Regions from separate parts of the Homo sapiens genome. Here region 2 is linked to region 1. The links come from fine-mapping of genetic effects on gene expression. Tissue or cell type: whole blood. Region 1 holds a variant in brackets; the other region holds the start of a gene. All regions are shown on one strand. Distances are from middle to middle.

Region 1 (8,100 bases):
GTAGCAGGTTCTGGGCATGTGTCCCCATCACCCTTCTCCAACAGAAAATAGTTTATTTTTATTTTTTCATGGCTGGCAGCAAGGCAGCACCTGTGGTAACCTCGTTAGTCAATTCCAAGAGCTCCTCAGAGAAGGGGGAAAGCCTGCCAATTTAGCAAGGATTTTTGGTCTCCAGTAGCTATGAAGTGTGGGGGGGATTGGGGAAATAAGCCCAGGAGCAAGAGAGGTTGGGGATGAGCAGTCTTCTCATCCAAATCCACTCTGAGGTTAGAGAAGAGGAAAGCACGCCATTGACTGGTTTTCTGATTGCCTTCATACATCCAAGTATGTTCTCCACAATGACTTTTTCTCTAGTGGGAAGCCATGGAGATGGACTTAGATAATACCAAGTACCATTTCCTGCATGCCTTTTGCAGGCCAGGCATTGTGCCAAGCCCTTCAGATGGTGCTCCTCAGTGGGAGCTTCTCAGCCAGGGTTTTCTGTCAAAGATACTGACTCGACAATCCTAGAGGATATGGAGTTTATTTATTCCCAACTGGAAAGTGAGGGACTCGAGTCTCTGAGGGGTTAGGTGACTTTCCCAAGTTCTCATAGCTTCTAAATGGTAGGGCCAGAAATCAAATGCTGTCTGATGCCAAGGCTTACATGACAAGCTCCCTCCCTGCTCCCTGCTCCCCCTGCCCCTCATTTCTCTGGCAGTCACCAGATTTTATTTTCCCCAGGATGAGAATCTGTAAAGGTTTGGGGTCTGGCTGATTTGGACTGAAATGGGCTCTGTGGCCTCTTCCCTGGGTCTTAGGCCCCATTTGAAAAATTGAAATGGACCGTTGAATCCCAGAGCCTTGCGGCATGGTAGATTGTGAAATAATTCCATCTCCTCCCCTCTCCCTCCCCAACGCCACACACCCATGGTGAATGGGGATTCTCCCAATGAGGAAGGCTCAGCAACTCCCAGGGCCCCTGACCTGTTCATTCTAGAAGCTTCAGGAGCAGCAGTCCCTGCACCCAGGCTCATGCCCCAGTTGGCAGCCAAGTTCATCCTCTGGACACCAACATAGCTTCAAAAGAGTCAGTGTCAGAAAGCCTCATACTTACCTTACCGTTTAGGGTAGTTTTTATTTTGAAATACATATAGAAAGATATATTAATCAGGGTCCCAGCAAGAAACAGAGTTCTTTTCAAAAGGATTTGACTAAGAAGAATGTAGTGAAGGCACAACTTATAGATGGACGGGCAGGGTTCAGGGCAGCAACAGGAATGTTGAGGCACCCAGGAACTAGCAATAGTGGGAAGATGATACCAGCCCTCAGCCAAAGGAGCAAAGAAAGGAAATAGTGTGACTGGGGCCTGGTGAGTCTTGGCAGCATAGAGGTGGCCACCTGGTGAGAGCAGTGGTCCCAAGGGCCACAGTCCCTGCCATAGCCAAGCACCAGAGCAAAGAGGGAGCAGGGGAAGAGACACCCTCCTGACCTCCAGCCTCCTGCCTGTACCTCACATTTGCCGGACACAAAAGGAAGCTAGAGGCAAAGGAAGCTGGTGATTCAGCTCCTAGCACTCAGCCCCAGGGGTCACAGAGCAGGGCACCAAAGGGAAGAGAATGAACATGAAGGGAGAAGGCAAATGGAGAAAAATAAGCACAGGGGACACCTTCCTCCTTTTCGTGATTAGGATTGTTACCATTGCAGACCTGCCTGCCACCCCCAACCCAGAGGACCTTGAGGCTTTGGGGAATGAGAAGTAAAGCCCCCACTAGAAGGTTGAGGATGCATAAAGCTTAAAACCCTTGTTCTAGGGAAAGTGTCTTTGCAGCCTTTCCATGGCACTTAGTGAGGAATGAGTCTTGTTTCCAGATGGAGATGCTAAAGCATCCAGGCATGCCAGCCCTGGGGAATGCAGGGAAACAGTCTTAGGGATGGACCCAGGCCTTGGTACTTTAGAGCTTCTAGGGTATGAGTCATCTTTGCCTCTTAACAATCAGATCAGTGGTACCCTTCTGACCTCTGTCATTTGGCTGCACTGGAGGCAAGAAATGGTTTGGACTCACGCAGGGGCATGATGTTAGTAAGGAAGGGGTCAGAGGTGAACCTAGCTTGGGTGCTCCACCTCTTGACTCAGAGTCTGTGCTCTTTGATGAACTTTCTGTTACCTTGGGATCTTCTACAGCAGGTCCTGGTGTGCAAGTATTTCAAGATCAAGATAAAATATTTCATTGTGTTTTATTTAGGAAAAAAATGGTAGATGAAAGCGGAACCAACAGGGGCATTCCGTTTGTGGTTTGCTGAGATTCCCTGGAAAGCAAGCTTGGGAGGCCAGGGTCTGTCAGAACACAAGACCAATGTCTTCTCCAAAACTTGGATGAACAGAAGGTGCTTACAAGCTGACAGGGAGTTATGGGGAAGGAAGCAGAATTTCCAGTTTGGTTCCAAGTCTTTTCTGGTCTTGACCTTTAGCCTAAAAACAGAGGGCCCAGTTGTTCTCCATTATTACTGTAACTCAAAAGGAGACACATGGGTCCGGGAGAGAGTTGGGAGGCAATACTAGGTTTGCACGTTCTGAGTTCATGGACACCCAAGGAACTGCCCCTCCCTAGGATAACTAGAGCCAAGCCACTGGACCCTTCTCATCCTGTGGCCTTGTCTACAATTTTAATCATTTTGAAGATGAAGGTTTTGAAGATGAAGGCCCAGCCTCAAAAAGGAATAACCAAGAACAACCCTCTCTCCCTCCTTTAGTTTAGATGCTTCCACAGTCAAATGTAAAATTATTCATGTGCTTTTACTCATTATTCATCTGATTTTATGTAAAAAAAAAAAAAATGGAATCCTAGGCTGGTCACTGCATGGTGTTCTCAATCACAAGCCATGAGCCAGGGTTCAACATGCTCCCTTCACTTCAGACCTTCCTCACAACTGAGCCTGGATCCCACTCTGGACCTCATGATCCGCCTACCACGGCCTCCCAGCGCGCCCAGCCCCTGCTTTATTTTTCTATATAGCACTTATTGTTACCAGATACATTTGTGTTTATCACCTCTCTCATCACACACACACACACACACAGTTAAAGGCAGGGACTTGGTCTATTTTCTCAAAGTTGTGTCCCCGGCACTTAGAATCCTACCTGCCGTGGTGTACATGCTCAATAAGTACTTATTAAGTGAATGAATGGAGTCAGACATGTCCTCAAGGGTAGGTTCAAATCAGGGAGAATGGTGGGTGTCCTTACTGCTTTATAGGATTTCATGCTGGCCCCAGACTTGAGTCATTTCCATCAGGCAAATTCCTGAAATACTTACTGGTCTTCCTGATTCTGTGGTATGTGCTTGTCAACAGCACATTGTC[G/A]AACACGTTGCTGCCTATGCAACACTATGTGGCAATGGCTGTTGAAACTCGTTGCTAACAGAAGTGAAAGCAAAGAAAAGCAAAGATAAAGAACGTAATGGCTGGGCGCGGTGGCTCATGCCTGTAATATCAGCACTTTGGGAGGCTGAGGTGGGCAGATCACTTGAGGTCAGGAGTTCGAGACCAACCTGGCTAACATGGTGAAACCCCTTTTCTATTGGCTGGGCGTGGTGGCATGCACCTGTAATCCCAGCTACTCGGGAGGCTGAGGCAAGAGAATCGCTTGAACCCGGGAGGTGGAGGTTGTAGTGAACGGAGATTGCACCATTGCACTCCAGCTTGGGCAACAAGAGGGAAACTCCATCTCAAAAAAACAAAAACAAAAAAAGGAGAAAGAAAGTAATTTCCCCGCCATGGATGATATGACATGGCAGCTTTCATGGAGGTTTCAGAATCTGCCGGCCCACCTCACACATGACTTCCTATGCAATTAGTATAAAGCAAAGAGACAACAGACAACACTTCACACCTGAGCCCCAGGTCCTGAATGTCTTTGGATAGCCTCTCTCCTTGAAGGATATATTGACTCACAGGCAAAGGGCCCTTATAATGATATAAAGGAGACCAAGTTGGAAGGAATAGATCACAGGAAGGTGAAGCCCAAAATCCAGAAGGGAATTTCAGGGAAAGTGGTCTGGACTCAGGTACCCTGCCCAGATCCATGTGCCTTCCAACACGTGGCAGACAGAGAGGTGACAAGACAAAGGAGGAAAGCATGCTCAAGGGATAGCTAATGGGTGTGTCATTCGACCTTCCCAAGACCTAGCTCTCTGGAAATATCAAGGGTTCAGGGGGCTGGGTCATAGGCTTGCTTTCCTTCTAGCTCACTGTGTGGACCTGGATAAGTTGCTTGGCCTTACCCATCCACCCTTAGTAGCCTCTTCTCTGGCCCCTTCCATGGTTCTGTGCAGAGTAAAGAGGTAGGACACACAGTAGGGCCCAGAAGGGTCTCCTGGCAGTCACTGATGCCAGATTCAGCTCTCTTGACTCTCCATGTTGGTGACGACACCACCAATTTTCCTTTGCACACATGGCCTCACCTTGAAAATTCAAGAGTCTACAGTCAAGTCACTTCTGCTTCTAGGGGCCTCCCAGAAGCACCTAGTATTCTGTTTCAAGTCCTTTGTCCAGCTGCTTTCAAATCACCAAACTCCTCTCTCCCTCCCCTCCATTACTACCCATGGAGATCCAGAGGAGGGACTTCTTAACTTCTCAGACAGTGAATTGAGGGAGCTCAGAGATTTCTTTTATTCCTGGAGCACAGAATGTAACGTAGGTGCACCAGATCAAAGGCATAGCAGCAGCCTGAGCTTCTCTTTGACCAAGTCCTGGGAGGCAGGCTGGGTGTTTGTGTTTGAGGATAGAGTGCCAGATGTTGCAAATAAACATAGAAAACACTCATTTAAATTTAAATTTAAGATGAACAATGAATACTTTTTTTAGTATAAGTGTGTTTTATAAAATATTTGAGCCATATGTATACCGAAAAATGATTCCTTGCTTGTCTGAAATCCAGATTGTGTTGGGTGGTCTATATTTTACCTGGCAGCCCATTTGCATGTTTCCTAAACACACCGGCAGCTCCCAAATCAGCCTGGAGAGAGCTGAGCCTGGTGCGTGGGGCATACCTTACAACCCCAGTTTCTGTTCCCCACCCATGTTCTTTCCAAGGAGGCTGGCTGCCCCACTGTCAGAGTGTCCAGGAAAGAAAATAGAAGAGAGAAAATGGTCATGGGGTTCACGGGCATTGTGCCCCCACCGTCGGCTGCAGCAGAGACTCAGTGTGGCAGATGCCTCCACGTCTCCAGCCCAGGCCCAGTCAAGCAAGGGCCCTAAGATCTGCCCAGAAGGAGAAGGTGTGGGAGGGGGCGGTGCCCGCAAGTGGAGGTGGGGGACAGGAAAGGGAAGGGCCCGCAATGCCAGCATGGAGCTTCGAAGGGGACTTTGAAAGGTGCTGCCTATGAAGCACTGCTTTCCTCCAGAGCAGCCATCCTACCTGCCTGCCCTGAGACCCCCGCTGGCTACCATTATCCCAGGACAAAACAGGGCCCGGGCTCCCGGTTCCCCCTCATTTCCTCTTTCAGTGTATTTTCTCTCCTCCATGTTCTGGAAGTTTCTCTCAGTGTAAGCCTTGTCAGGGAGGCCTGCCACTCTGCCCCACCTCTTCGCCTCCTGCTTGCCCTGCGGCCAGCTGTGGTTTGGCCTGATCTCAGAGCTTAGCACACAGCAGGTCTCCCAGGGTTGGAGGTCCATCCTACCTTTGAGTAGCTGTGTGACCTTGGAGGAGGCCTGTCCTACCTTTGAGTAGCTGTGTGACCTTGGACTACTTAGTGCTCGGCACCTCTGCTTCCTCATCTGCAAATGGGCACTCTGGGCAAGATGAAGTGAGTCACTGAGTGGGAAGTGTTTGGGACAGTGACCCGCGTGGAAGAGACATTGTTATACACGTGGGCTTTATTCCACCCCTGCTGCTCCACTCAGCTGTTCCTCAGTCACCTCCACTGATTTTGTTCTTAGCTGTAGCCCTTCTTGAACCCCTGCCGTCCTAGGTGCACACGCCTGCCCCACACCTCCCACTGTCCCCTCCCTGGGTGCCCATGACTCTCTTCTTCCCTTTCAGTTATTTTCCTCTCTCAGACCCATCCAACCAGCCCCATTTCCCCAAGGTTCTGTTCTAACCTCTCTTTAATCCTTTTTCCCTTGGAGATCTCAAGGAACAGATGGGAGCCTCAGCACAGTATAGCCTTGTATGTGCACAGGCCATTTCCACACGGGGCGGGGACGTGGCAGCTGTGCTTTGGCGGTCATCTCTGGAGAAGGGCGGCTGGGGCTCAGGAGGCTGAGGGAGCTCCTGCTTTTCACTTTCTTCCCTCCTGTGAGATTCAGTTTTTTTCATAAGCATTAATTACTTTTATTAATATAGTAGAATTGCAACTGTAATGTAGGATTTTTTTTTAGGAGAAGGGATAGATTACCTTTGACCAGGCTCTCAGGGTTTCTTTATTAAGTAATCTGCCTTTAAGATGGGATAGGGGGAGGGCATTCAAAGTAAAGATGGTCCCCTAGTTGTGATTTTTCGACTTTATGATGGTGCAAAAGTGATAGGCGGTCAGTAGAAAGTGGCACCACATTCTCCCATGATGCTGGGTGGTGGTGTGAGCCATGTCTCCCGGTCAGCCAGCTGGTTGGGAGGGTAAAGGGCCAATGCCGTACAGTGTGCTGTGCTGCTAGGTGATGTTGCCCAGCTCTGGGCTGTGGAAGCGTTCTGAGTACACTGAAGGTGGGCTAGGCTCAGCTGTGATGCTCAGGAGGTTAGGTGGATCCAGTGCATTTTCACTGGTATTTCCAGCTCACCCTGCATTTATCTGGATGTAATCTCATCATAAGTCAAGGAGCATCTGTACAACAAGCAGTCTGAGGGAAGGCACAGAGGAGAGGCTTTGGCACCTGGAAAGAAATGTCGGGCCTCATACTGCCCATAGTAATTTGTAGATTCAATGCTATCCCCATCCAGCTACCATTGACTTTCTTCACAAAATTAGAAAAAAACTACTTTAAATTTCATATGGAACCAAAAAAGAGCCCGTGCAGCCAAGACAATCCTAAGCAAAAAGAACAAACCTGGAGGCATCACGCTACCTGACTTCAAACTATACTACAAGCTTACGGTAACCAAAACAGCATGGTACTAGTACCAAAACAGATACATAGACAAATGGAACAGAACAGAGGCCTCAGAAATAACACTACGCATCTACAACCATCTGATCTTTGACAAACCTGACAAAAGCAGGCAATGGGGAAAGGATTCCCTATTTAATAAATGGTGTTGGGAAAACTGGCTAGCCATATGCAGAAAACTGAAATTGGACCCCTTCCTTACACCTTATACAAAAATTAACTCAAGATGGATTAAAGACTTAAATGTAACATCTAAAACCATAAAAACCCTAGAAGAAAACCTAGGCAATACCATTCAGGACATAAGCATGGGCAAAGACTTCATGACTAAAACACCAAAAGCAATGGCAACAAAAGTCAAAATTGACAAATGGGATCTAATTAAGCTAAAGAGCTTCTGCACAGCAAAAGAAACTATCATAAGAGTGAACAGGCAACCTACAGAATGGGAGAACATTTTTACAATCTATCCATCTGACAAAGGGCTAATATCCAGAATCTACAAAAAACTTAAACTAATTTACAAGAAAAAAACAACCCCATCAAAAAGTGGTCAAAGGATATGAACAGACACTTCTCAAAAGAAGACATTTATGCGGTCAACAAACATATGGAAAAAAGCTCATCATCACTGATCACTAGAGAAATGCAAATCAAAACCACAATGAGATACCATCTCATGCCAGTAAGAATGGCGATCATTAAAAAGTCAGGAAACAACAGATGCTGTAGAGGACGGGAGAAATAGGAATGCTTTTACACTGTTGATGGGAGTATAATTCGTCCAACCATTGTGGAAGACAGTGTGGCAATTCCTCAAGGATCTAGAACCAGAAATACCATTTGACCCAGCAATCCCATTACTGGGTATATACCCAAAGGATTATAAATCATTCTGCTATAAAGACACATGCACACGTATGTTTATTGTGGCACTGTTCACAATAGCAAAGACTTGGAATCAACCCAAACGCCCATCAATGATAGACTGGATAAAGAAAATGTAGCACATATACA
Region 2 (8,093 bases), 210 kb after region 1:
CTACGGTATTCTAGAGCAAAAACCATTAAAGCTACTTCTACAGGAAATCGTTTTACACAGATATTGTATGTGGAATGAATACCATTAACTGCTCACCCCTTACTTTTTTTTTTTTAGCTTTTCTCTCATTTTTTTTTTGTTGTTATTTTTTTTAAAAAGATGTCACATATGAACTGGGGAACTTTAGCACCAAAATCAAGTCTCTCCTAGTCCATCTAGCTTCCCCTTCCTCCCCACTTAAAAAAAAGAAAAAATTAAATCACAAAGTCCCACTTAAGTCAAAATCTTCGTCCGCTTTTTCAGCCTTCCTTCCTGCAGACCTACACAAACCCAGGCAAGATTAGTCAACAGGGGTTCAGATCGGGAAGAAAAAGGTTTTGAATGTCAAGACAGGTTTCCCCCAAAACCCTGGTCTGGCAACAACTCTTCCAAGGGGCAGGGGTGGGGGGGGTGGGGGGGCGGGTACAGGTGGAGAGGTGCCACCGGGAAGAGGGGAGGAGGAATAAGTGTGCGGGAGACTGAAATGAGGGAAGGTGCAGTTGTGTCGCCAGTGGAGGGGGCTGCTGGTTCCGGGTCTCCACCCCGCCATGGGCAGAGGCTCCGGGAGGCCCACGGGTGCCCTCTGGCGCTGAAGAGGTAATGTAGTCACAGTGACAAAGTTAGATTACAAGGCACTAAGTTGCTTCTGTAAACTGTTACTGCTTTTTCTCTTGTGATTTGGCACTTAAGGCTTAAGCCGGAAAAAAAAAGGCATCTACTGACAAAATATGGGACTTGTCTGTTATGCATGGTAAGTGGGCTATAAAATCCAGGGAGGGGGTTTCAAGCCAGAAGAAGCTACTGACAAATTGACTTGTCCTTATGTTAGGTGGGGTTATGAGGGGGAGAGGGAGGGCACATTCTGAGGTGCTGGGGGAAAGGGGTTGAGCTTAACCTTGTTAATGTAGGGCCTGTGGGGAATGGGATGGGTAGGGAGAAGAGGGTATGGGATGTGGGTGCAGGGTAGGGGCTGGAGTAGGCAGGAGGTCCCTCCCTACCCTGGCTTAGTCATCTGAGATGGAAAGTCTGCTGAAGATGGGCAGGCGTCTTGAGTTGTCCAAGGTCGGGGAGTCTGAGCCACTGTGGCTGCTGCTGGAGCTGCTCAGGTAGCCCTCCTGGTCCGAGAGAGAATCCTGAGGGCTGGGGGGAGAGTCAAACATGTGAGGGGACTCGGACATGGGCCGGAAGAGGAAGGTGGTCGGGGAGCCACCCCCGGGCAGCCCCATGCTAGGGGCAAAGAGGCTTGCCAGCTCCTGGCTGGAGAAGGCAAAAGGGTTATTGGTGCCATCGGGCAGGGTAGGTGAGCCCAGGAGGTCATCGGCGCTCAGAATAGGGGGTGGGGTGATGGACGTGGGGCTGTCCAGCAGCCCGGTGGCAGCGGCGGTGGCAGCGGCACTGGGAAACCCAGCAAAGCTAAAGCTATGCTGGAGGCGGGGACGGTCAGCGGAGAGGTCCCGGGCCCCGGCCAGGGCACGGCGCTCTTCAGCGTTGTGGATGAAGTGGCAGCGGGGCCCGTAGGGGCAAAAGCCGATGGTGTGGAAGGTGCGGCACAGCTCCGTCTTGTACTTGGGGTGGCGGGTCAGGCTGCGGAGCTCGTGGATGCCGTGTGCGAACTGGCACTTGTCCCCGTACTTACAGGCACCGTTTTCCTCAAAGGGGCGGCACAGCTCCGTCTTGTAGCGGCTGGAGTTGACCTGGCCGCCCCCGGGCTGCTTCTGGGTGGGCAGCAGCCGCTCGCCCCCTTCCGAGAAGGAGCGGTCTCGGAAGCGGCTGTCTCGCGAGCTCAGAGCGGGGGCTGGCTCACCCTTGAGGCTGCTGAGGAGCTGGTTCTGGTGGAACTTGGAGCTGGGCAGGGTGACTGAGTGCCTCCGAGGGAAGCCCCCACCAGCAGGGGTGCCCACTGCCTTTCTGTCCAGCAGGCAACCCCCTGCACTGGGAGCACTATAGTTGAGCATCTTGTTACCCTGGAGAGAGAAGAGAAAGGATGGTAAGGACAGAGGACATCCACCAGGATGTCCACTATGGGCAGCCCCCTACACAATCACAAACGCCCGCTCTTTCTCAAAGAACTCATCTCTACCTCGGCTCTAGCAAGCTCCCTTCCCTCTCTCCCTCCCATAGGCCATTCACCTGGGTTTATTTTGGCCCCATGCGTAAGAAACCACAAGATCCAAACTGTGTGACAAGCACCCTGCTCCATGCTGACTCCTGCAATGCAACCCCCATGTCCTCTGTCCCCAAAGCTACCACTTTAAAGTTCAACTTTTTTACTAGTCAAATAGATTCTTCAACTCAAAATATCTCACACAACCCAGACCTCTCTAGATTACCGCACCCCGCCCCCGCCACCGCCCGCGACAAAAACAGGTAAACCTCAGAAAGGAGTCTATCATAGGCTACGTTAGGTCCCCTTCCAATCAGTCTCTGCTTAATTGATACCCCCTCCTTCAAGACCTGGCCTAAGACTCTCAACTTCCTCCTTCAGAAGTGTTCCCTTCCTTTGGCAACAGGTTTTCAGACTGCCTTTGCTTTTTCTTGTGGGGAGGAGATTGGGGGCCTGGTCTGAGGTTGGGGGAGACAGGGATGTGATTCCTGAAAATAAAACTCTTTGCCCTAAGTTCCCGGAAGAGATATTTTCTACAATAATCTCTCTCACCATTTCCACTCAGCCCTAGCCCACCCCGCCCCCTTCACTGAGAAGATGCCTTTGCAATTAGTCTTTTGGCTGCAAGAGCAAGCTTGGATAAGAGCTCCAGTGTTTAATCTTTAACGCAAAGCTGCAGATGGAAAGGAAAAGGAAAGCACCAACCCCCCTACCCACCTCCTAGTCAATAGCGGATTGGGGGTGGTGGGGATGGGGGCAGAGCCACCAATGGCAGGTTTCTGTTCCAATAGGACCCTGGTCACCTGCCCAAATTGTACCCAAGATTTGGAAATGGTGCAGGTCAGGGACCTAGGAGTTAGTTCCCAGCCCATGTGGGTGTCATTGTGCAAATTCTAATGTTGGTCCCTTAGGATCAGCAGGGGGGGACCGGGAATCTGTAACTGCAACCACCCCACCGAGAGGATTACAGGAACCCAGTCGAGAGCTGGTTCCCAACAATGAGGTTCATTTAAAAAGTCGTGAGGGGGGAGGGGGGCCAAAGAAAGAAATAGATCAAAGAGCGGGAGAGTCGAGAAAAGAAGGAAGAAATGTTGGGGAGCGCTGGCAGCCGGGCTGGCAAGTGGAGTTTGGGAATGTGCAGGGAGGGAAGGAAGCTGAAAAATTCAAACTTTTTAAATGCTACTCTTCAGCTCCTCGGCGTCCCTGCACCCCAACCCTGCAGCCCTGGGGCGTTGGCAGCTGCACCAACAGGAGCAGCAAGCTGGGAAAACAGAGCAACATGACCCGACGTGTTAAGAGAAGGCAAAACACTTCAGCAATTAAAAAGTAGCCCAGCAGCTTCACCCTTTCAAATTGGGAGGGGGAGGTTGGAAAGAAATTTAACAACATCCATAGACTTTTGCTATGTACATTTAAACCGCAGTCCTGGAACATTCCGAGTTTAAAACTTGCTTTTTCAACACTGGCTGACAAGCAACATGTTTTAAGGAGCCCCCCATTAAATCCTTACTCGCGGGACTCTCGAGTTCAAGCCAGCATTTTGTCGCCACCTCCCCCCCCAACCCCGCCCGCAATCGATGAGCCGCAATGCCTCGGCAACACAGGTAAGCGGGTCAACCTGAATGCCTCTTTCACCCCAAAGTTTGCTGCACGATCGGCTATCGCGGGAAGAAGCCCAACGGAGCTAGGGCGGACTCAAGCCCCACTGCAAACTTGTTCTGCAACATCTTTTTGAATCACAACTTGGCCTTTCTTCCTCGCATATCCCCAGCTCCCCCCAAAGAGTGGAGGAAAACATTGTCCCGAGACTCACTTCCCCGAGGGACCTCCCACTCCCAACCCCACGGGTGGGTAATGCCGCTGGACAGACCTAGGGCGCAGACTGGGAACCCGATCAGACCAGCAAACCTGGGATCCAGCAGCACGTTACGTAAAACAGGATCGCCCAAAACTTGTCCCAATCCCAGCCCTCCCCCCGAAGCCCCCGGGCTGCCCTGCCAGGCAAACTTCGCCCCTCAAAACCCTGGCCTCCAGATTCACATGTAATCCCCGCCAGCAACTGTTGAAACTCAAAGGGTGGGAAGGACGGGGCCAAATTCCTTCAAACTTGGGAGAAATGCCGGAGGAGAAAAGAATCATCTCGCTGCACCACTTTCCCCATTGCCTTCCAAGACCCAAACTTTTGGGGGTTCTTTCTTAAGGCAAAAGAAAAAGACTTTTTGAAAAGCAAATGCTCCGCCCCCCTTTACCTTGCATAAAACTTCGCTCAAGTCGAAGATGGTGGCAGACACGAGGGTGGTGGTCATCCTGTGCGTTCGCGCGAGCCAGGGGCGAGGATCTGGTGTGTCGCGAAGGTCCCGGTGCGGGGAAGGCGCAGCCTCTCCTGTCTGGAGTCCCACACGCCAGTTCCCGGCGCCCCTCGCCTTTCTGACTCCGGGCTGGGGCGCGCAAAGCCCAATTTATAAAGTTCAGATTTGGTGGGCCGGGGGGAGGAGGAGCTTTAAACTTATTTAAATGAGGAAGAGGAGGAAAAAGAAGTTGATTGACACTGGAGTTGAATCAGCCATGCGGTCAGGCGGGGAGGGGGGGCAGGGGGAGGAGAAGAAACTTTCAAAAGGAAGAAGGGGGAGGGGAGACGAGAAAAGAAGGCGGAAAAAAAAAACCCCACTGTGAGCCGCGCACAACTTTTTTTTTTTTTTCTTTAAGAGGAAAAGTTTCAAGTCGGCTGACTTCCCTACCCGGCGCTTCAGGCGCCCCCTCTCCGGGGCCGCGCGGGCGCAGAGCGGGAGGGGCGCGCCCCCTCCTTTGTCAGCCTCAGAGCGCGGCTGTGACGTCACTCATTCCACTCCCTCCGGGGTTCTTGTTGTCATGTTGTTGTTTTTTGTTGGGCAGGAAGGCGGGCTCGACTTTCTCTTTTTGCCAGCGGGAGCTGAAGCCCGTCCTTAGCGCCCGGGCCGCGGTTTCCATCTTGAGCTGGCGGTCTCCTTGAAACTTCCCCAAGTGTCTGCACAACTTACCTTTTCCCGACTTCTCTTCGACACTCGGCTCCCTTCGGCAAACCGGGCAGGCCGAGGACATTAGAAATTTGGGACGCACAGAATGTTCAAGCCTAGGATTTTATGTTGCTGTTTTTTTTCCAGCGGGGCGTAGGGTGGGGCGCGCTGCTGGGGGGACTAGGGAAACTTTTTCCCCAGGAGGACATGGTCTGGCGGGGGCGAGCGCGGCACAATTTAGTGCGCCGCACGCGTCGACACTCGCGCTCGCTTTGCAGCCGGCGCTCTCCGGGTGTGGGCGGGTGGGGGGCGCCGCAAAAAAAGACCACAACCCGGGACGATTGTTTGTTTTACCAGGCCTAGGCGTGCCGTTTCTTTTCACGCATCCAATCTTTAAACTTTTTAGTCAAGAAAACCCTAATCCTTCCTGAATGCCCCTTCCTCCCAGAAAAAGCCCACCGAGCAACTCACTACTTTCCACGCGCGCTCCGAATTCTGGGCGGCGCCACAACCCTCCCTCCTCCTCCATCCTCCCCACACACACCTCAAGACTCTAGAACAATGAAAAAAGGTTACTTTGGTAAGAATGAAGGTAAAGAGGTGGAGGGAGGCGGCACTTTTAACTTATTGTTGCTTCTCTCTCGCCCCCACCGGAGTGGAACATATGGCTTGTCACGCTGCGCCGTTTTGGCGGGAGGTGGAGAGGGGGACATGGGAGCCACGAAACCGAAGGGCCCGCAATGGAGCATGACTCCCTTGAAAATGATAAAATATATACTGTTAGGTTTGGATGCCGCCCACCCAAATAAAAAGTTAACGAGTCCCCCACCCGCCCCCTGCGCCTTGGCCCGACTGCTGGCGTGATGACCCAGGCGGAAGTCGCAGGGCTGCGCTTCTTTCCGATTTCCACGCGGGCTCCGCCGCCCCCCTCGGCCCTCGCACGTTTCTTCCCAGCACTCGAGGCCGCCGAGTCTGTTATGAAACCCGGTGCTGCGGAGTGGCTAAGATTGAGTTCCATTGCGATGTAATTAGGTCACCCCATTATGAGCACGTTTCTTTGGAAAGGACGGGGCGGGCCGAAGAGAGCGCATTCTCACCACCCCCAACACACACTTTTTTTTAAAACTGCATTTCTTATTTATTCGTAAACATCTGGGCAAACCCAGCGAAACCTTCCAAATCACAATTGTTTGAGAAACCGGCTGTTTTTCAACTTTGTGAAACCCAACTTTTGCTGCAGCCACGAACCTACGTGATCCCAGCGGGGTCGGCTTTCATTTGTCTCCTCTGCCCGAAATGGATGGCCCCCACTTTAACTCGGCTGCTGCCCCTCGCTTGTTCTGCTGCTGCCCTCCAGCCGTCTGTTGCTTCCCTCCCCCGCTCCCATTTTTCAGCTTTTCTTGAAATCTGGCAAGCGCCAGAAAGGGAAATAACTTCCATCCACCTTAATTTAAATCATTCAAGTGTAGGTTTCTTTCTTAGAGGGATGTTTGCTCGTTCCTTTCCCAAGTGGGTGTTGGGGCGGTGGGGGAGAGATTTCGTGCAGTTTCTTGGTGATGAGGTAATGAGTTCCAGATTTCAGGACAGAGCAGAGTGCGCGTTGAAACCACAAGGTTAGTCTGAGTTCTGATGTGAAGCTATTTCGGTTTTTTATTCCCCCGGCCTCCACCCATTCCCGCTCCCCCACCCCCCACCCCCCCCAAAAAAGAGGCCGGCTGGTCTTTAACTCCCGAGGGTTCGCGAAGCTCAGCTGGGGGGACCGGAGGAGGGGCTGGAAAAAAGCAAAGGGGAAGGGGACTGGGAGCGGGCGGGGCCCCCTTCCCGGCCCAGGGCCTGTCCCCGCGGGGCACCGGCTATGCCCCTGCTTCGGGCGGCGCCGCTTTCCCTCCAAGGCTGCGGGACCGGCCAGGAGCACCATCAGGCGCCCCAGAATGGCTACAAAGTGGATTTTTCCAAAGAAAGCTGATTCCTCGAATTTCCTCGGCTTTTCCAACTCCCGGAGGCCCTCCCCTCCCCCTCTCCCCGGGGGCGCGGGCTCCGCAAGGCTGCGACTGGCCTAGCCCGCTCGCTCCCGAGTTGTTTACCGGCCCCGCCGACCAAGGGTTTGTTCCAGCTCCCAGAGCCTGTCTCTATAATTAAACTCTTTTTTAAATTGTCGGGTTGAAACGTCATTTCGGGGACTTTCCAAGGGTGAGGGAGCCGAGAGGAGGGAGCGAGTCCCTTAACCCTTCGCTGACCCGGCGTCCCCGCCGCGGTGAGGGCCCGAGGGCGGGAGCCGACCCGCCCTCGCCCAGACGTGGTCGACAGGTGCCCAGGGGTGGCGGGAGGGCGGCCCTACGGTGCAGGAAGGCCGAGGCGAGGCGTGCGTGGCCGTCCCCCGCCAACTTCGCGGTGCATTCCGCCCTCCCGCTCCTTACCCGCGCAGTCCCCAGGCTGGCCGCCGCCTCACCTGCACTGCCGCTTCCGACCGGGAGGCGGTGGGCCGGCTCCTCTGTCCCAGGCCCGACTTCCGGGCCCTCCCCATTCGCCTGGAGCGCGTCCCTTCGTGGGGAGGGGCGGCCCAGGTATTTTAGCTTGGAGGTGGTGGTGGGGTGGGATGTTCGGTTTTGTGCAAGGGGGAAAGTGAAAGTCTTCGGAGTGAAGGAGGCGCTGCGGGTGTACGTATTCATCGGCCAATCTGGACCCCAGGCGCACCTCAAGGCAGATGACAGTGTGCAGCACTGGGCCGCAGGACCCCAGAAGGTTAGGCCTAGTCACAGGCGTCAGCAGGGTACCCCCTCCTGAGAGCCCTGCAGTGTTGCACTTCCTCTCAGGCTTCAGGTCATTTGCAAAATCCCCCAAATTCTTCAGGTTGAAAGAGAGAGAGACACCTGGAGTCCCCTTGTTTAAAGTTTGGAATGCTGATTCCCTGGCCCAGATGGGGCCGGGGAATCTGCATTTTTGGTAAATTTCCATCT

Evidence for each region. PIP is the estimated chance that this variant, and not a neighbour inherited with it, causes the effect.
Region 2: it holds the start of ZFP36L1, and the variant in region 1 is fine-mapped to the expression of ZFP36L1 in whole blood (TOPMed, PIP above 0.99).

The regions. Positions count from the first base shown.
Region 1 is chr14:68,574,703-68,582,802 of GRCh38, forward strand. It overlaps a transcript of RAD51B not described here. Among named protein-coding and RNA genes, the nearest start is that of RAD51B-AS1, 110 kb to the right of the region's middle. RefSeq lists an enhancer at 1,702-1,871. The variant G/A (reference allele first, on the strand shown) is at 3,343.
Region 2 is chr14:68,788,490-68,796,582 of GRCh38, forward strand. ZFP36L1 (ZFP36 ring finger protein like 1) reads right to left here and starts at 4,578. Exons shown (of 2, transcript NM_004926.4): 1 at 4,393-4,578; 2 at 1-2,003. The coding sequence starts at 4,449. The coding sequence ends at 1,044. RefSeq lists enhancers at 1,239-1,298, 1,309-1,388, 1,496-2,111, 6,199-6,743, 6,406-6,565 and 1 more and silencers at 4,736-4,805, 4,826-5,025, 7,306-7,625.